2 separate regions of the Homo sapiens genome follow, and region 2 is linked to region 1. Evidence: fine-mapped expression QTL. Tissue or cell type: platelets. Region 1 holds a variant in brackets; the other region holds the start of a gene. All regions are shown on one strand. Distances are between the middles of the regions.

What was found. PIP is the estimated chance that this variant, and not a neighbour inherited with it, causes the effect.
Region 2: it holds the start of TECPR2, and the variant in region 1 is fine-mapped to the expression of TECPR2 in platelets (CEDAR, PIP 0.95).

Annotation. Positions count from the first base shown.
Region 1 is chr14:101,543,900-101,551,998 of GRCh38, reverse strand. LOC105370673 (a long non-coding RNA gene) reads left to right here and starts at 6,333. Exons shown (of 7, transcript XR_944222.2): 1 at 6,333-6,885; 2 at 7,999-8,099. LOC105370674 (a long non-coding RNA gene) reads right to left here and starts at 6,137. Exons shown (of 3, transcript XR_944224.1): 1 at 6,052-6,137; 2 at 5,339-5,539; 3 at 4,035-4,921. The variant A/GA (reference allele first, on the strand shown) is at 4,049.
Region 2 is chr14:102,358,277-102,366,375 of GRCh38, reverse strand. TECPR2 (tectonin beta-propeller repeat containing 2) reads right to left here and starts at 3,435. Exons shown (of 20, transcript NM_014844.5): 1 at 3,260-3,435. It overlaps CINP (cyclin dependent kinase 2 interacting protein), which reads left to right and starts at 3,486. Exons shown (of 5, transcript NM_032630.3): 1 at 3,486-3,531; 2 at 6,789-6,957. The coding sequence starts at 3,525. LOC124903427 (small nucleolar RNA U13) reads left to right here and starts at 7,474; the gene lies at 7,474-7,577. RefSeq lists silencers at 2,902-2,991, 3,032-3,441.

The DNA.
Region 1 (8,099 bases):
CACGGCAGTCATGGGGGAGCACTCACATGGGAGCAGAGGGCCCGGTGAGGCTGCTCAGCCAAGGGTCTGGTGCAGGGAGAAGTGAAGATTAGGGCTCTTTGCAATCTGTCACAGGGAGTGAGCCAGGGCGTCACCCTGGGACTTCTGATGGTGATCATGTGCTCGTCACCCACCATCCGGGTGCTCCAGCTGGACCAGACCTAGGCCTGTCTTGAGGGAAAGACAGATCCTTGCCACGTCACTTACCACAACCGCAGCCAAGGCTGGTGGACTCCATAGCCGTAGGAAGGCAGCTTCAGGGACAGGGTGGGAGGCTAGAGGTCTCTTGTGTTCCGAAGGGCACAGACGTATGGGACAAACCAGGGAATGACCCAGCATCCCTCTTGGCCATGGTCCTGCCAGGAGACTTGGGTGCTGTCCTGCCCCCCTGGGCCTCTGTGGCCTCATCTGTACCATAGAGGCTGGACTTGGGATTTGAAAGGTACCACCCAGGGCTGTGGTTCAGTCTCTTTGTAGAGAGACAGAGTAAGGGTGAGAGTGAGCCATGGAGAGAAAGAGGGGACAGGCCTAGTCTCTGCCTCTAATTATTTGCCTCTTCCTCTTCTGCAAGCCCCCCTCAGTGGAGGTGGGGGGTGGAGCGTGCAGGGATTGAGGGTTGGGGGATGGGTATGTGATGTGAACCCTTTTCCATGATTCTAATGGCCTCACCCTAAGAGCCTGGGAGCTGGTCTGCAGGGTAATTCTGTGGGCAGAAGGGTTGGGGTGGGAGTAGGGGGTCCCTTGGAAGCAGGGCTCTGTAGCCTTGTCTCCCTTCCCTTCCTAGGGGGTGGCTGTTCCTGGGAGGGGCGGGTGGTTTTATTTGGGACAGGAGCCTGTTGCAGTTAAGCAGTTCAAGATGCTGGAGATGGAGTTACCCGGATGACTGTGGAAAATCCATGCTGAGTTATTTTTCAGGAGCACAGTGATGGGGGCACAGACTACTCTGCCTGGCAGGCAGAAGTAGCAGGGATGTTTTCAAACTTTAATTAAGTCCCTACTGTGTGCCAGATATTAAGCTTAGTGTGTTTTCACATGTTAATCCTGCAGTAGGGATCTCTGTGCCCTTTGCAGAGCTGTGGAATGAAGGCTCTTTGAGGGGAGCATGTGTCCAAAGTCCAACCAGGAGGTGGAGAGGTAGAATAGCATGTCTACCCACCCACCCTTCAGGCCATTCCTCCACCCATCCACTTACCCACCCACCCACCAGTTCATCCATCCGCCCATGCACCCACACACCCACCAGTCCATCCATCCATCCATCCATCCATCCGTCCATCCATCCATCCATCCATCTATCCACCCACCCACCAACCTGTCCATGCATCCATCCATCCATCCATCCATCCATCCATCCATCCATCCATCCATTTGTCTTTGCATCCACCTGTCCATCCATCCATCCATCCATCCATCCATCCATCCATCCATCCATCTATTCATCCATCTTTGCATCCACCCACCGGTCCATCCATCCATCCATTCATCCATCCATTTGTCTTTGCATCCACCTGTCCATTCATCCAACCATCCATCCATCCATCCATCCATCCATCCATCCATCCATCCATCCATCTTTGCATCCACCCACCAGTACATCCATCCATCCATTCATCCATCCATTTGTCTTTGCGTCCACCTGTCCATCCATCCATCCATCCATCCATCCATCCATCCATCCATCCATCTTTGCATCCACCCACCGGTCCATCCATCCATCCATTTGGCATCTGCAGCACTTTCACTTTTCTGATGACCCAGACTAGAGCCTATTCTGTGGGCTATTGGTCTGGGAGGTGAGTGCTGGAATGACTGGCTGGCTTGGATGCTGGCCCCAGAGCACTGACTGAGGGTCCGGGAGGAGGTGGGGCTGTAACCCATAGAAGACTGTGTGGCTGTCCTTATAAACCCGTGCACAGCCTGGTCCTGATTCTCTCCCCTGTGGCCAGCAGCACAGGATGATGATACTGGGGGCTTCTGCAGGGACTTGCTTCCTACAGGTAGTTTTATGACCCGTACAGCAATCACTCTGCTGGAGTTTCAGTGTGATGCATTTGGGGATGTAGAGGGTTCTGTGGGTTCGCACTGGGGGTGGGGTGGGGGGCGGCAGAATAGCCTCATGACCACCTGCAGTGGGGCTCCCTGAGGCCACCATGGACATCCTGGCCCTGGGTCCCCTGGTGTCCTCGGTGGCTGGGCCGGAGTGCTGTGAGCCAAGCTGGAGCAGCGTGTGGGACCCTAGCACGGGCACGGACCCAGTCTCTAGTGACAACCTCCCTCGCCTCACAAACCAAATCTCTCCCACGGTGCTGTCGCCTCAGGTCCTCTAGTGATTCCTGTTGCCCTGGAGATAAAATCCCGGCATCTCAGGGTGGCCAGGAGCTTTCTCAGGGAGACCTGCTGGGAGGCCAGGAGCATGGAAGTCCCTCAGGAGGGAAGGGACGTGGCGCATTTGAGGGAGAATCTCTTGGAGAGCCCTGGAGAACTTACCCTGAAGGACGAGGAGGCTGCCGCTTGCTGGGACATGTCCCACGTGGATGGGAAAGGCTGCAGTCCCAGGGTCTGGGCACCACGCTTAGGCAGATGGGGCCTGTGTCATCCCCCAGGCAGGTGCCGGGCGCTCGGGGCTGTCCCCGGAGATGCAGTCTTGGGGGCGATGGACTCGCTGTGCCTGAGCTCCAGCTCTGTCCGTTCCTTTCGGAACATGGAGGCCGGGAGTCCCTCCTCGGGGACGCTGTGGGGGTCTGGGGAGTGGGTCCTGAGTAGGTTGGCCTTGATGGGCCTTCCAGGCCTGTGGGATCCACGGGTTCACAATTTTGGAACATAGGTTCTAGGAGACCCAGGAACTGCTTCCCGAGAACCGAGGCCTCCTGGGGGTCCCTACTGGGGGTGAGTACAGTGGGGACCTGGAGGAGCTGAGGGCAGCCTGGGGGAAGGGACTGGAACCCTGAGAGGGATTAGTCCAGCTGCAGGAAGCTGTGGTCAGGAGATGCAAGCACTGGGTGGAGAGGCCAGGACAGGTGGGGTGCTGCCCAGGCCCCAGGCTGGAGCGCATTTTGAAAGAGGAAGGGCAGGGAGGCATCTGGGCAAGTGTAAGGGGAGTGCACTGGGAGAGAGGGCCTGAAGGAAGGATGATGGTGTATGCGGACACCAAGCCACCACCTCCCCTCCCCCATCCTTTCCTCCCCTCCCTTCCCTCTCTTCTCTTTCTCTCCCTGCTTCTTCCTTCTTTCTTCCCTTTCCTCCCCCCGCCTCCTCTTCCCTCTCCAGCTCCTTCCTTGCCTTTTCCTCCCTTCCCTTCCCTCCGCCCTCCCCCGTCTCTTCCTCCCTTCCCTCTTCCCCTTCTATCTCATCCACTTGTGCCCCTTCCCACCTGCCCCTCCCAGCCTCTTTCCTTCCTTCCCCACGTGGCAAGCAGCCCCTGCACCCACCAGCCCGTGCTCCCCAGGGCCTGGCTCCGCACGCATTAGGAGATGCTCACAGAGAGGGCTGGGCTCCTTACAGCAAGAGACTTCTGCGACCGCGACCATTGGAGCCCAGCTGTCATGGGGAGGGTGGCAGTCTGGTGGAGACCACGGACCCTCCCCTGGACACCTCCACCAGGCAGGCTCAGTGACTGCCCTGCTACTGGGAGCCACAAAGCCTGTTGCCAGGAACCAGGCAGGGATAGCAAGTGGGGTCTTCTGAGGCCAGGGCGGGTGGTCCTGGGTTGGGGGGCCAGGGTGTGCTCTGAGCTCTTGAAGTGCCCCCACTGCTCCTTGTCCTGGGTGAATAAGGGTCTCCGAGACCTGGCCCCTACAGGCAGCATCCCCACCCCCCACCCGGCCGGTGCTGGCCTTGGAGGGATTCCGGGGGCACCTCTGTCCTCAAGAAGGGCTCTTTGGAGAGGAAAAAAGAACACATTTCAACACCTCCAGATTCTGAAAATGGATTTCTCCCAGGGAAACAGAGACTCAGAGCATGTTCTTTTCCCTGAGAGGGAGCCAGGAAAACAGCGATGGTGGGGGGGGGG[A/GA]GGAGGGGTAGGAGGGGAGAGAAAGGCCTCAGCAAGAATCACCGAGAATCAGGACACGGAGTCAGAAGGACCTGGACTCAAGTCCTGCCGGCCACCGATGGGCCGCGGACCCACGCGTGCGACTTCACCTCTTGGAGCCTCAGTTTGTTTTTCTGTCCAATGGGGTAACTCCATCTCTGTCCCTGTCTTGTAAGGGATGGCTGTGGATGGGATGTGGATAGAGCAGTTCTTGTTCCAGAGACCAGGACGATAATGTCAGAGTGTTTCTGAATGACACCCCCGGCCCCAGGAAGGGTCAAATAGTGCTGGGTACACTGGTTCTGACTGCCGGACCCAAATCCTTGCTGTGTGGCCTCAGTGAAGTGGCCGACCCTCTCTGGGCTCCAGCTTCTTCTTCCATTAATTGGGCAAGGATCTGCACCTTGTGACGTCACTGGGAAGATTCACTGGGATGGGGATGTGGTGCCAGGTGCAGCCTGTGCTCCGTGAGGTGCTCACATTGGCTGGGGTAGGGGTATCTCGAGGCAGCGGTGGGGCCTGTCTGTCCCTGGGCATGGCCTGGCTTTGGCTGGTCCCTCCTTCTGTGGCTGGTCCCCTCCAGGGCAAACCCTCCCCGCAGCCCCACTCCCTGGGCTCTAAACAGCTCTTGCTTTGGCTGGGACAGCTTCGGGCTGCCTCCTCCAGGAAGTCTTCCCTGACTGCCTGCTTGGGATGGAAGGGCTCCTTGGCTCTGGCCTGATCCCCTCCATGCTGTCTCCCTGGGAACTTTGCAGCTGCCTCCTCTTGGGTTTCTACATCTCTGATCTCATCTCCTCCTCTCTGTCTTCTAGATGTCTTCATGTTTTAGAGTCGCTCTCTGCTTGCGGGGCTGCCCTACCATGGAACGGACTGCAGCTTTTGAAAAACATCCAGACTGCTTGGCCTGGCCTTCAGGGCTTCCAGATGGGGTCTCTGCTTCCCTTTTCAGCTCCAGCCCCTGTCCCTGCTTGACACTGAACTGACACCCCCGCCGCCCAGGGAAATGTTGCCACAGCTGCCCTGCCACATGCCTGCCCCCCCCAGCAGGCCTGCAAGGGGACGTACTGAGGACCCCCAGCCGTTTAGTGAGGAAGCCACCTGAGGCTCAGGAAACCCGTGCACGGCTGTGTGGGCTGTGCATCAGCACTCGAACTCGGGTCTCCTGGCTCAAAGTTCAGGCTCTCTCACTGAGCTAGAATTTCCCACCCATACAAGTTGGCTACTTGCACCTTCTCTTGGAGCTCCCTTTCATCTCAACTTCCCAAGCCCTACCTGTCCTTCGAGGCTTAGCCGAAATGTCGGACCTCCCAGGAAGCCTCCTCCGATTCCTCATCCAATCACCTCTCTCCCCGCCAGATGGCAGTTACCTTTTCCCCATGACCTTGGCTCACCATGGTCCTGGCAAAGGGGTGAAGACTGTGTCCCAGTGGCAGAGATTGCTGGCTGCCCCCAGTATCCGTTTTCCTCTTCTTTCTAAAGTAAAAGAAATCCCAGCTTTGAGCTGGACACGTGGCTGCTCATGTAAAGATTCAAGTTCTTAGCCTCCCTTGCAGCTACACGTAGTTATCTGACCAAATCCTTGCCAATGACGCAGAAGAAGTGACCTGTGAAACTTCGGGTTCCTGACCTTAGGGGGAAGAGAGGTGCCTTCCCCCGCTTCTTCTCCCTGTTCCCACAGTTGGATTAATGAGGTGATGGCAGGAGTGGGGCAGCCGTGGGATTATGGAAGGGAAGCTGGGTGTTGAGGATCACAGAGCAACAAGCTGCAAAAAGCCTGTGTGCCCGTGTCACCACCACGCTAGCTTTAGACTGCTGAAGCTCAGCCTGCTATGCGGGGGGCGGGCGGGGTGGGGGTGGGGGGGCGCTGTCCTGTTTAATCCTGTTATTTTGGCATTTCTTACAGTAGCCAAAATGTATCCTAGTTAAAATAGATCCAGATAGAGAAGTTGATCAGCTGTTTGCAGAATGATCAAGTGGTTACTAACCAGAGGTTGGCGAGCCGCGGCGTGGAGACTGCTTTTTAGGGCCTGTGGTGCTCTGGAGTCACAGAGGGATGTGTCTGTGTGTTTGAGTGCTGGGCGTGCCACGTAACTGTGGGATGCTGGGGAAGTCAGTAATGGCTCAGTGGCCCTGATGCCTCTTCTGTGACATGGGGGTGACAGTCCTCCTTGCAGAATGAGGCTCGGATGACATCACACACATAAGGGCATGGCGACAGAGGCACTCTTGCACGTTGGTTCCTCTCCAGATTGAATTCTCCGGGTGAAATGGCTTTACTGGGAGCACCCCTCTTCCTCCACCCTCCTCTTCCTTGCAATCCCCAGCTTTCCCCGGAGTGGGGTGGGGTGGAGGGGGTGGACTTAATGAAACCAAATGGAAACATTCCATTTGTAACAACAAATATTTTCCACCAGGACTTTTCTTACACTTAAATGAACGACCTTGGAATCCCTGGAAATGGCTGTAGAGGAGGAGGCGGGGTTTCCCTTCTAGGAGTTTTGAATTTTGCAGAAAGATGGGCCCCTAGAGGCTGCCCATGTGCTCCCTTAGCCCCGGCTGCCCCTTCAGGTGAGTCCCACCTACTGCCCCATCTGCCTCATCTCCCCTGTACCCATACCTCTTGGCTCTGTGGGCCAGACCTCATCCCTCGGAAACCTCCAGGGGAGAACAAAGGGCTCCTCCAACTCTGGCCAGGAAAGTCAGGAAAGGATGCATCTGTCTACCTTTGGAGCCCTCGATTCAAAGACCCACCTGCCTGGAAGGGGCTGGAGAGGTGTGGAGATGGGAGTTCCAAGTGCCAAGGGTCACCCGGTGCGGAGGTAAGAGTGAGGGGCTGAGAAGGTGGGCTCTGAGGTCCCATCCTGATATGGTTTGGATGTGTGTTCCCTCCAAATCTCATGCTGAAATGTGATTCCCCAGTGTTGGAGGCGGGGCCTGGTGGGAGGTGTTTGGGTCATGGGGGTGGATCCCGCACGAAAGGCTTGGCGTCCTCTCCACGGTCATAAGTGAGTTCCCACCCTATCAGTTCGTGGCAGACCTAGTTGTTTAAAAGAGCCGGGCGTCCCCTCCTCCTCTCTTGCTCCCTCTCTCACCGTGTGGTGTGCCTGCTCCCCACTCTGCCTTCCACCACGAGTAAAAACCTCCTGAGGCCTCCCCAGAAGCCAAGCAGATGCTGGGGCCAGGCTTGTACAGCCTGCAGAACCATGAGCCAAATAAACCTCTTTTCTTGATAAATTACCCAGCCTCAGTATTTCTTCATAGCAACACAAAACGAACTAACACACCCCCACTCCAAATTGGGCAGCCCTGCTTTCTCCTGCTTTGGGAATGGGGTTCCCTTCAGCTTCGGTGTAATACAGTGATCAACTGATAGTTCCTTGACTGTACAAAATTAGTTTGAGTGGACAGTGCAGTTCAAAGCCACTACCTTTTTAAAATTTTTAATTGTGGTAAAATACATGTAACATAAAATTTACCGTCTTATCCATTTTTTAAGATAAAAACAATGAGCACTATGTTGCCCAGGCTGGGCTTGAACTCCTGGGCTCAAAGATCCTTCTGCCTCAGCCTCCTGAGTAGCTGGGGTGACCAGATTATGCATTGAGCCTGGCTACTGTCTTAGCCATTTTTAAGTAGCAGCTCAGTAGTGCTAAGGGTATTCACATTATTGGATAACCAATCTCCAGAACTCTTTCCATTGTACAAAACTGAAGGACTGAAACATTGAACACCAGCTCTCCCTTCTGCCCTTCCCCCAGCCCCCGGCGAGCACCGTTCCGTTTCCTGTCTCTATGAGTCTGACTACGTCAGGTGCTTCTCATCAGTGGGATCTTGCAGGATTGGTCCTTTAGTAACTCGCCTGTTTCACTTCGCTTGATGTCCTCAAGGTTCAACCGTGTTGCAGCATGTCTCAGAATGTCCTTCCTTTTCAGGCCTGAATAATATTCCATTTTATGGATTTACCACATTTTGTTGATCTGTTCACCTGTTGGGGACACTCGGGTCGCTTCCACCTTTTGGCTGTTGTGAACGA
Region 2 (8,099 bases), 810 kb before region 1:
TATTTCATCTCAAAAATAAATAAATAAATAAAAATATAATGAATAATGCTTCCTTAGTCATGACTATTTCAGTTAAAAAAATACAAAACACCACCCTATGGCATCCTTCAAGTTACGATGCTTCCTTTCCCCACTAGCCCTGTCAATCTCATAACCCTGGAAGGTGGCAGCTAGCCTTCACTGCTGACTACTAACACCCAACTGCCACCCAGATGGATGATTTCTCAAACTGGAGCTAGGACTAATATAGAGTCTAAGTCATCCACTTCGCTGTACAATAACCATGTTATCAGAGTGCTCTGGGTACACTAATGGTTTCAGGATTCTCTCCAAAATCCCTAGGAAGCAACAATTTGTATCCCTATTGTAGAATCTATGTTTGAAATCTGGCTACGACATCTATTAATTATTTGAGTATTAAATTATTAAGGAGGAACGTAATGAGACTGAGGCAGTCATTTATCTTCCAGACAAAATTTTGTCACTTCCTTGCTCCCATCCCCATTGGCTACCCAATGGTCACAAGCTAAAGCCTAACACAAGCATGGAAATTAGACACTATGACAAAACAGTCTATATCTAACTTCATCTCAGGCCACTCTTCCATCCACACACTGTGCACTCCCTACCCTTTAGCAATCACCCCTCTACACGCTTCTTCTCTCAGCCCTGGGCAACCACTGATCTCCTCTCTGTCTACAGTTCGCCTATTCTGGAGATTTCATCAAAATTGAATCATATAATATGTGGTATTTTGTGTCTGGTTGCTTTCACTTAGCCTAATGTTCTCAAGGTTCCTCCATGTTGTAGCACAAATCAGTACTTCGTTCCTTTTTATTGCTGAACAGCCTTCCATTGTGTAGACAGGCCACGTTTTGTTTGTGCATCCATCAGCTTTCCATCACAGTCCCTGCACACACCATAACCTGTATGTCTCTGCAGAACAAAGTCCCTTTCCACTCTTCCCTATTCCCCCACATGTGCCCTGTAAGAACTAGTCCTCCGCCACCAGGAAGCCTTCATAAATTCCCTCAGATACTTGGTTGGTCTTTCTCTGCTTTCACAGAACTCCATGATGGCAGTTATCGCACAGCACCATCATTATCTGTTTTCTCTCCCCTTCAATGGACTCTTTCTCATCTTCACCTATGTTCTTCTAGTCTGTATACTTTGTGGTGCTTTAAAAGACCAATAAAGAGTATGGTACAATCAATGCTCAATACACGTTTGTTGAATGAATCTCTCTCTCAAAGCACTGTGCTAGATTCACCCAAGTATGACAGCCCTAAATATAAAATAGTGGCAAAAAGTCAATAGAACTCTTATGTCCAGGTCCAAAGAATACATTCATTTTAAATTGAACATGCATCTTGAGTAACAGCTCCCTTCTACCTTAGCAATTCGCAAAGCCATCAACTACTCCCTTCTAATTTTACTGATCTCTCTGTGCATTACTGAATCTAGAAATCTCTTCGTGCTTGACACCAAAGCTTTTCATTATAACCCTTTCCTGATCTATTCCTCATCTTCCCAAGTTCAATCAACTGCCTCTGCCTGATGCCTGTTTCCTTCCTTTTCTTCCCACTAAGTTCCAGTAGCCATTTTTTTCAACTCCTACAGCGGCTAATATGAAATGAAATTCTCCCCAAACTTAAGTGTAACTTCTTTAAGAAAAAATTGGAAAAAAAAATCCAGTAGATGCCAGTCTTCTATTGAAAAAGACACGTGGGTATAATATAGCTGATGCCTAACAAAAGCTACTTCCTAGTCACTCCTTCAGAAGAGGGTTATCCTCATTCCATCTTCCCCACCACTGGTTTTCCAAGGCAGTCCTGAAAATTCAATTTGTGTGTCCCCTACACCTGCACTTAGTTCTCCCTTTTAAAGTTCATGGGCCAGACCATGATCTTTCTGAGGCAGTGACCTCAGGAAGGGTCTGTCTGGTTCACCACAGCATCCCTAGAGCCAGCCTGGCACAGTGCTGGCACACGATGGCCAAATAACCACCAATATGGGACGTAAGTCAGGTTAACAACAACAACAACAAAAATAAGGTCAGAGGTTTATCAAGGTACATTATAGCTGGGTGTGAGAAAACACAAAGTCCTGCAGCCTAAAAGACCAGGAATCGCTGGTGATCACAAGGAGCTACAGTGGCTTCATTCCCAGATTCTACCTATGCCTGGGATTTGCGTTTTGAGATTTCCCAGAACTCTGTCTACAAGACCTTGGCTGCAAGGAGGCAGTCCACAAGTGCAACTGGTCACTCCAATAGATGAGAAAAGGATGCACCCAGGCTGGTATCCCACATTCTGCCAACACATGGAACATAAGTCACAGAACAGAATAAAATTCCTGAATCCCAATAAGAGAGGAAGAAAAAAGTGCAGGGAAGAGAAATGGAGGTAGAGAAGGAGAAACTAAAGTCATGAGAAGTCAGAGACATATCAGAAGGGACTAGAGGGCGAGAACGCAGGCTAGCACAGATGACAGCAGGGGCTCCCCTTTACTGAAATGTACAGCGGCAGGCACCGTGCTTAACTTTACATGCACTGACCCATTTAATCCTCTTACCAAGCCAGAGGTAGAAACTATTCTCATCTCCATTCCACTGGTGATGAAACTGGAGCGGAGTGAGGTAGGGCACTTGCCCCAGCACAGAGCTAGGAAGGGGCCGCTGGGACCTGCCCGGCTCTGACTCCAGGACACCCCATCCTTTAACACTTACTACCTATTCTGCCTCCCATGCCTTCAAATAGGATTGGGAAAGGAGTCATTCACTTATCCACTCATCGAACACTGAACACCAACTGGATGAGTGTCAAGGCCTGGGGCCAGGCGCCGGTGGGCGGATGTAAGGGACGCGGGCTGCGAGTGGGGGACAGAACACGACGTCAATCTTAAGGCGAAGGAGCAGAGCCCGCGGCCAGACCGGCAGCCGGGATGCAGGGTGGGGCCGGGGGCCGAGGGCGCGGGACGCGCAGCGGAGGCCTGAGGAGGGGCGGGCGGCCCCTGTTCCCCGCTGCGGACCGCCGGATTCTGCGGGCGGCGAGCCAGGCGCTCCGTGTGTTGTGGCATTTAGTGTCCGCCACTCCGCGCGGGCGAGACCGCGGGCGAGGGAGACGGGGCGGACGGGCATGGAGACCCTGCGGGGCTGAGGCAAGGGAAGAGTGGCCCGGGGGAGGCCGAGGAGGGGCTCGGGGCCAGGCGTCGGGGGCGTCGGGGGCGTCGGGGCCGCTTGCGGCGTCGCCGGACTCACCTCCCGCGGCAGCCCCTCCGGACTCGTCGGCCCCGCCGGGCCGGAGGAGGCGGGATGGACTCCGGGCCGCGGGGGCTGCCGGGAGCCTGTTCCCTGGGCAACGGGGCCGGCACCGGGGCCAGCACCGAAGAGCAGCAGCTGGCTCCGCCGGGGGCTAGAGCGGCAGAGCCACAAGTGGCAGCGGGCGGGGCGGACGTGACGCAAATGCGTTTCCGGTGGGGTGGGCGGGGCTTCGCGTCTCCTTCTACGGATATCTGTGGACCTTATGGAAGGTGCGTGAGATCGGTTCCTTTCCCGGGGTGGGGTGGCTGTGAATGTTACTGCTTAGGCCGCAGGTTGGACCAGAAGCTCAGGAGCTCCCCGGATTACATGAGGTTAAATGGAGGTCCTCTGTCTTACCCCAGCCTAGCCCGCAGGCCCCTCGCAGCCTCTGCGAGCTGCTCGGGAGACAGTTTTGCCGAGCCTCCGTTTTTTCACATGTGCAGTGACAGATGAACGGGACGATATACGCAAATGAGTGTCAGCAGATCCGACATCCAAATTGTAATTATTGTCACTATAAATTAGTACTAACAGAGTTCACTGGGTACCAAGCCTTGCATGCTCATCTCGTCCAGAAACTCCTCTCTGAACTGCCCTCAGTCAGAACATTCTGCTTGTAATGAAAGCTGGCTTTCGCCTAGTGCTCAGTTTGCTGAGTACTGCTCCAAGCACTTTAAGTGGATCATCTCATTTGAACCTCACAGTGGTCCCATGAAGTAATGTCAACCCCATTTTGCAGATGGGGAATCGAGGCTCAGAGGGGATAAGTAACTTAGCCACTGTGCCCTCACCCTACCCTGTCCTGTGACGCTGATGACTGGTCTGTCTTTACCAGCCCTTGAGTTTCTTGAAGTCAGTTATGTTTTTGGTTCCTAAATATGTGCCCCGTATGAGTCAGGCTGACCATGAATCAGATGTGATCCTGCCCTCAGAATCTCCTGTTGGGGGGAAAACCCTTAGACAATTATAGAACAGGTGGTAAGAGCTATTCCTCCATTTACCTCATTTTATGCAAAGCCTCCTATGTGTGGAAGGTTTGAAAGAGAACGAGACATAGTTCCTACCCTAGTCGAATTTCCAGTTTAGCAGGGAATATAGACATTAAACAAGCAAATACACTCCACTGGTGAATATCATGATAGCAGAATTATAGGGTGTACCACATATCTAGTGGTGAGTCGTAACCCAACCTGGGGGATCCAGGAATACTTCTCTGTGGAAATGACTTTCTAAAAACCTAAATCAGATAATTTCACTGCCCTATCCAGAGCTCATTGCTCACTCCCCATTGTATTAGGTTGGTGCAAAAGTAATGGCAATTTTGGCTGTTAAAAGTAATGGCAAAATCTGTTACTTTTGCACCAAGCTAATACTTAGAAGTCCAAACTTCATTTTTTTATTTTGTTTTGTTTTGTTTTGTTTTGTTTTGTTTTTGAGACGGAGTCTCGCTCTGTCACCCAGGCTGGAGTGCAGTGGCGCGATCTGGGCTCACTGCAAGTTCCGCCTCCCGGGTTCACGCCATTCTCCTGCCTCAGCCTCCTGAGTAGCTGGGACTACAGGCGCCCGCCACCACGCCCGGCTGATTTTTTGTATTTTTTTAGTAGAGATGAGGTTTCACTGTGTTAGCCAGGATGGTCTCGATCTCCTGACCTCGTGATCCGCCCGCCTTGGCCTCCTGAAGTGCTGGGATTACAGGCGTGAGCCACTGCCCTCGGTCCAACTTCTTATCTTGGCCTATTAGGTTCTAGTTGTCTGATCACCTACTCACGCACTAGTCCTTTTCTGTCTATTTCATTCCAGCACACTGGTTTTTTTGTTTGCTTGTTTGTTTTGTTTTGTTTTCTGTTTTTTGAACTCACCAACCTCATTATCATAATTAGGGCACATACTACTGACCTACCCTATTTCTGGCTTTTCATCATTCAAATCTCAGCCTAAACGACACCTTCTCAGGGGATCACACTAACACAAGACCCTGTTTTATTTTCCACACACACTTAATCATGATCTGAACTGATCGTGGTCATTTGTTTATTATCTGCCTCCCCTTTGGAAAGTAAGTTCCATGAAAACGGTCCTGGTCCGTCTCATTCAATCACTTCATTCCCCCATGCCTGGCGTATTGTAGGCAGTAAGCAAATATTTGTTGTTTAAGTAAAGAATGAATGATAAATCAAGATGATATTTTAAAGTGAGGATACTAAGTATGAGGCAGGGGAGTGGGGACACACACAGATAGGAAAAATATTCCAGGTCAAAGTCAGAACTTGTACAGAGCCAGCTCTGATGCACAGAGGGCAAGTGGGAAAGGGTAGAAGCTGAAGTGGTGGGCAGAGCTTGGATAGTAGAGGCCCTTGAGCTAACAGGTGAGATACTGGGTTTTTGCCTTGTGCGAGGCCTCACAGCTTCACATATATTATCTAATCTCAGCAATCCTATGAAATAGATACTATTTTTATTCCCATTTTACAGATGAAAATGTTGAGGCTCTGAAAGGTACATTAAGTTGCCCAAGATCTCACAGCTGGCGAGCTGGGGTTCAGACGCAGGCAGTGTGGTCTTCTGACTTGAGGCATCAAACCATCCAGCTGTTGTGTGTCCTGGATTCCTCAAGAGGACTTTATCCTGTGGGCAGTGAGAAGCCTTTGTGGGGTTCAAAGTAGAGAAGGCAAGAGGGCACAGGAGGGTTCGGGGAGAACAAACAACCTGAGTTGGCTCTTGGTGGTCTGGGGGTTGCTTCCTACAGGCAGTGGGATCCGGGTGCATCTTGGAGGATGGGCATCGTGAGCCTGAGGAAGGAAGGAGCTTTCCTGCAGAGAGAACACGTGTAAAGGCCTGCAGGCACCTCAGCTTTTCAAGAGCTGCCAGTAGTTCATTTTCGCTGGATATTGACGGGGGGCCAAGGTGTGGGTTGATGTACGTGATGATGTGGAGGGGTAGCTAGGTCTGGAAGGATTTTGGACTTCCTCCTGATTACCAAGAAGGGCAGTGGCAGCATCGTGATCAACTCTGCATCTCTGTTGTCTCAGTGTCTTGAAATGATTAGCACTCATGGGCCACGCTACTCTGAGCAAATTTAAAGTATCAGAGTGCCTGAGACTAGATAGTGGAAGTACTCGGGAGTCAGGGCTAGATTATCCTGTAGGGAAGGGAACGTGAGCCATTGAAGAGTTTTAGCAGACAGTCACAACTTTACCTTATTTCCAATCTTTGGAAAACAAAGGGCTTAAGGTAAAAACTTTGTGGAGCCATTAAGCTGGAAGAGGATTCAGCTCTATCTGGTGAATTTTAAAATGTTAAAAATATTCTATATTGTCTTCTTCCAGGAACTTTCACATTCATTCAGACTTTGTAGTTTCCACATTTATTTGTCCAGTTGATACAGCATTTCAGATAGTTTTACTGTTGAAAATTATAAGGACATTTGCCCTCCAACTATGATTGTATATTCCATGATAATAATTTTGTTTCTTTTATACCCTATCAGCAAAGACTCTTGGAACTGTAACGCCCAGAAAACCTGTCTTATCTGTCAGTGCAAGAAAAATTAAGGACAATGCGGCTGATTGGCACAATTTAATCCTGAAGTGGGAAACCCTCAATGATGCAGGTTTTACCACTGCAAATAATATTGCCAACTTGAAAATCAGTTTATTGTAAGTACATATTGGTTTTTCATGCTCTAAGTTTTTCACCCTTAATAACTGGGGAAATAATGTGAATAAATTTTAAAATAAAATATTAAGCAAAAAAAGCAAGTGGTAAGATGATACGTGTAAGTATAAATTGTATTGTACATTTTAAATACAAAATTATATTCCATATATATATATATATATATATATATTTAGTTATTTATTTATTTATTTTTTTGGAGATGAAGTCTCACTCTGTTGCCTAGGCTGGAGTGTGATGGCGCGATCTCAGCTCACTGCAACCTCTACCGCCTGGGTTCAAGCAATTCTCCTACCTCAGCCTCCGGAGTAGCTGGGATTACAGGCGCCCGTCACCACACCCAGATAATTTTTGTATTTTTAGTAGAGACGGGCTTTCACCATGTTAGGCTGGTCTCGAACTCCTGACCTTACGTGATCCACCTGCCTCAGCCTCCCAAAGTGCTGTGTGAGCCACCGTGCCTGGCTATTCTGATTTTTAAAACCACAGATTCTTTGATTCTTTTGTAGTTCATAGGCATAATGATTGGGTTTTCATGCTCATGTATGACCTGTGCCTTCCTCAAACTTTGCTATGATGTTGGCACATTACCTAGCTGATATGGAAAAAACTACCATGAATTCTTTTCATCCATTTTTGGATTTTACGTAAACAAAAAACATATGTTATTGTTTCCTTTATATCTCACTTTCTTTTTCTATTTTTTATTTTTTATTTTTGGAGACGAGTCTCACTCTATCCCCCAGGCTGGAGTGCAATGGCGTGATCTTGGCTCACTCTAACTTCTGCCTGTCAGGTTCAAGTGGTTCTCCTGTCTCAGCCTCCTGAGTAGCTAGAATTACAGATACCTGCCACCATGCCCGGCTAATTTTTGTATGTTTAGTAGAGACAGAGTTTCACCATGTTGGCCAGGCTAGTCTCAAACTCCTGACCTCAAGTGATCTGCCCACCTTGGCCTCCCTAAATGCCGGTATTACAGGCATGAGCCACTGCGCCCAGCCATGTCTCACTGTCTTTCAACATGGAAGCCATGCGTGTAATGTAGAGCCACTATTCTGGTTCTGTTCTTTCTCATTGCTGTTTAATAGTGTTTACCCACATTAGACCTCTCACACTGGTTTAT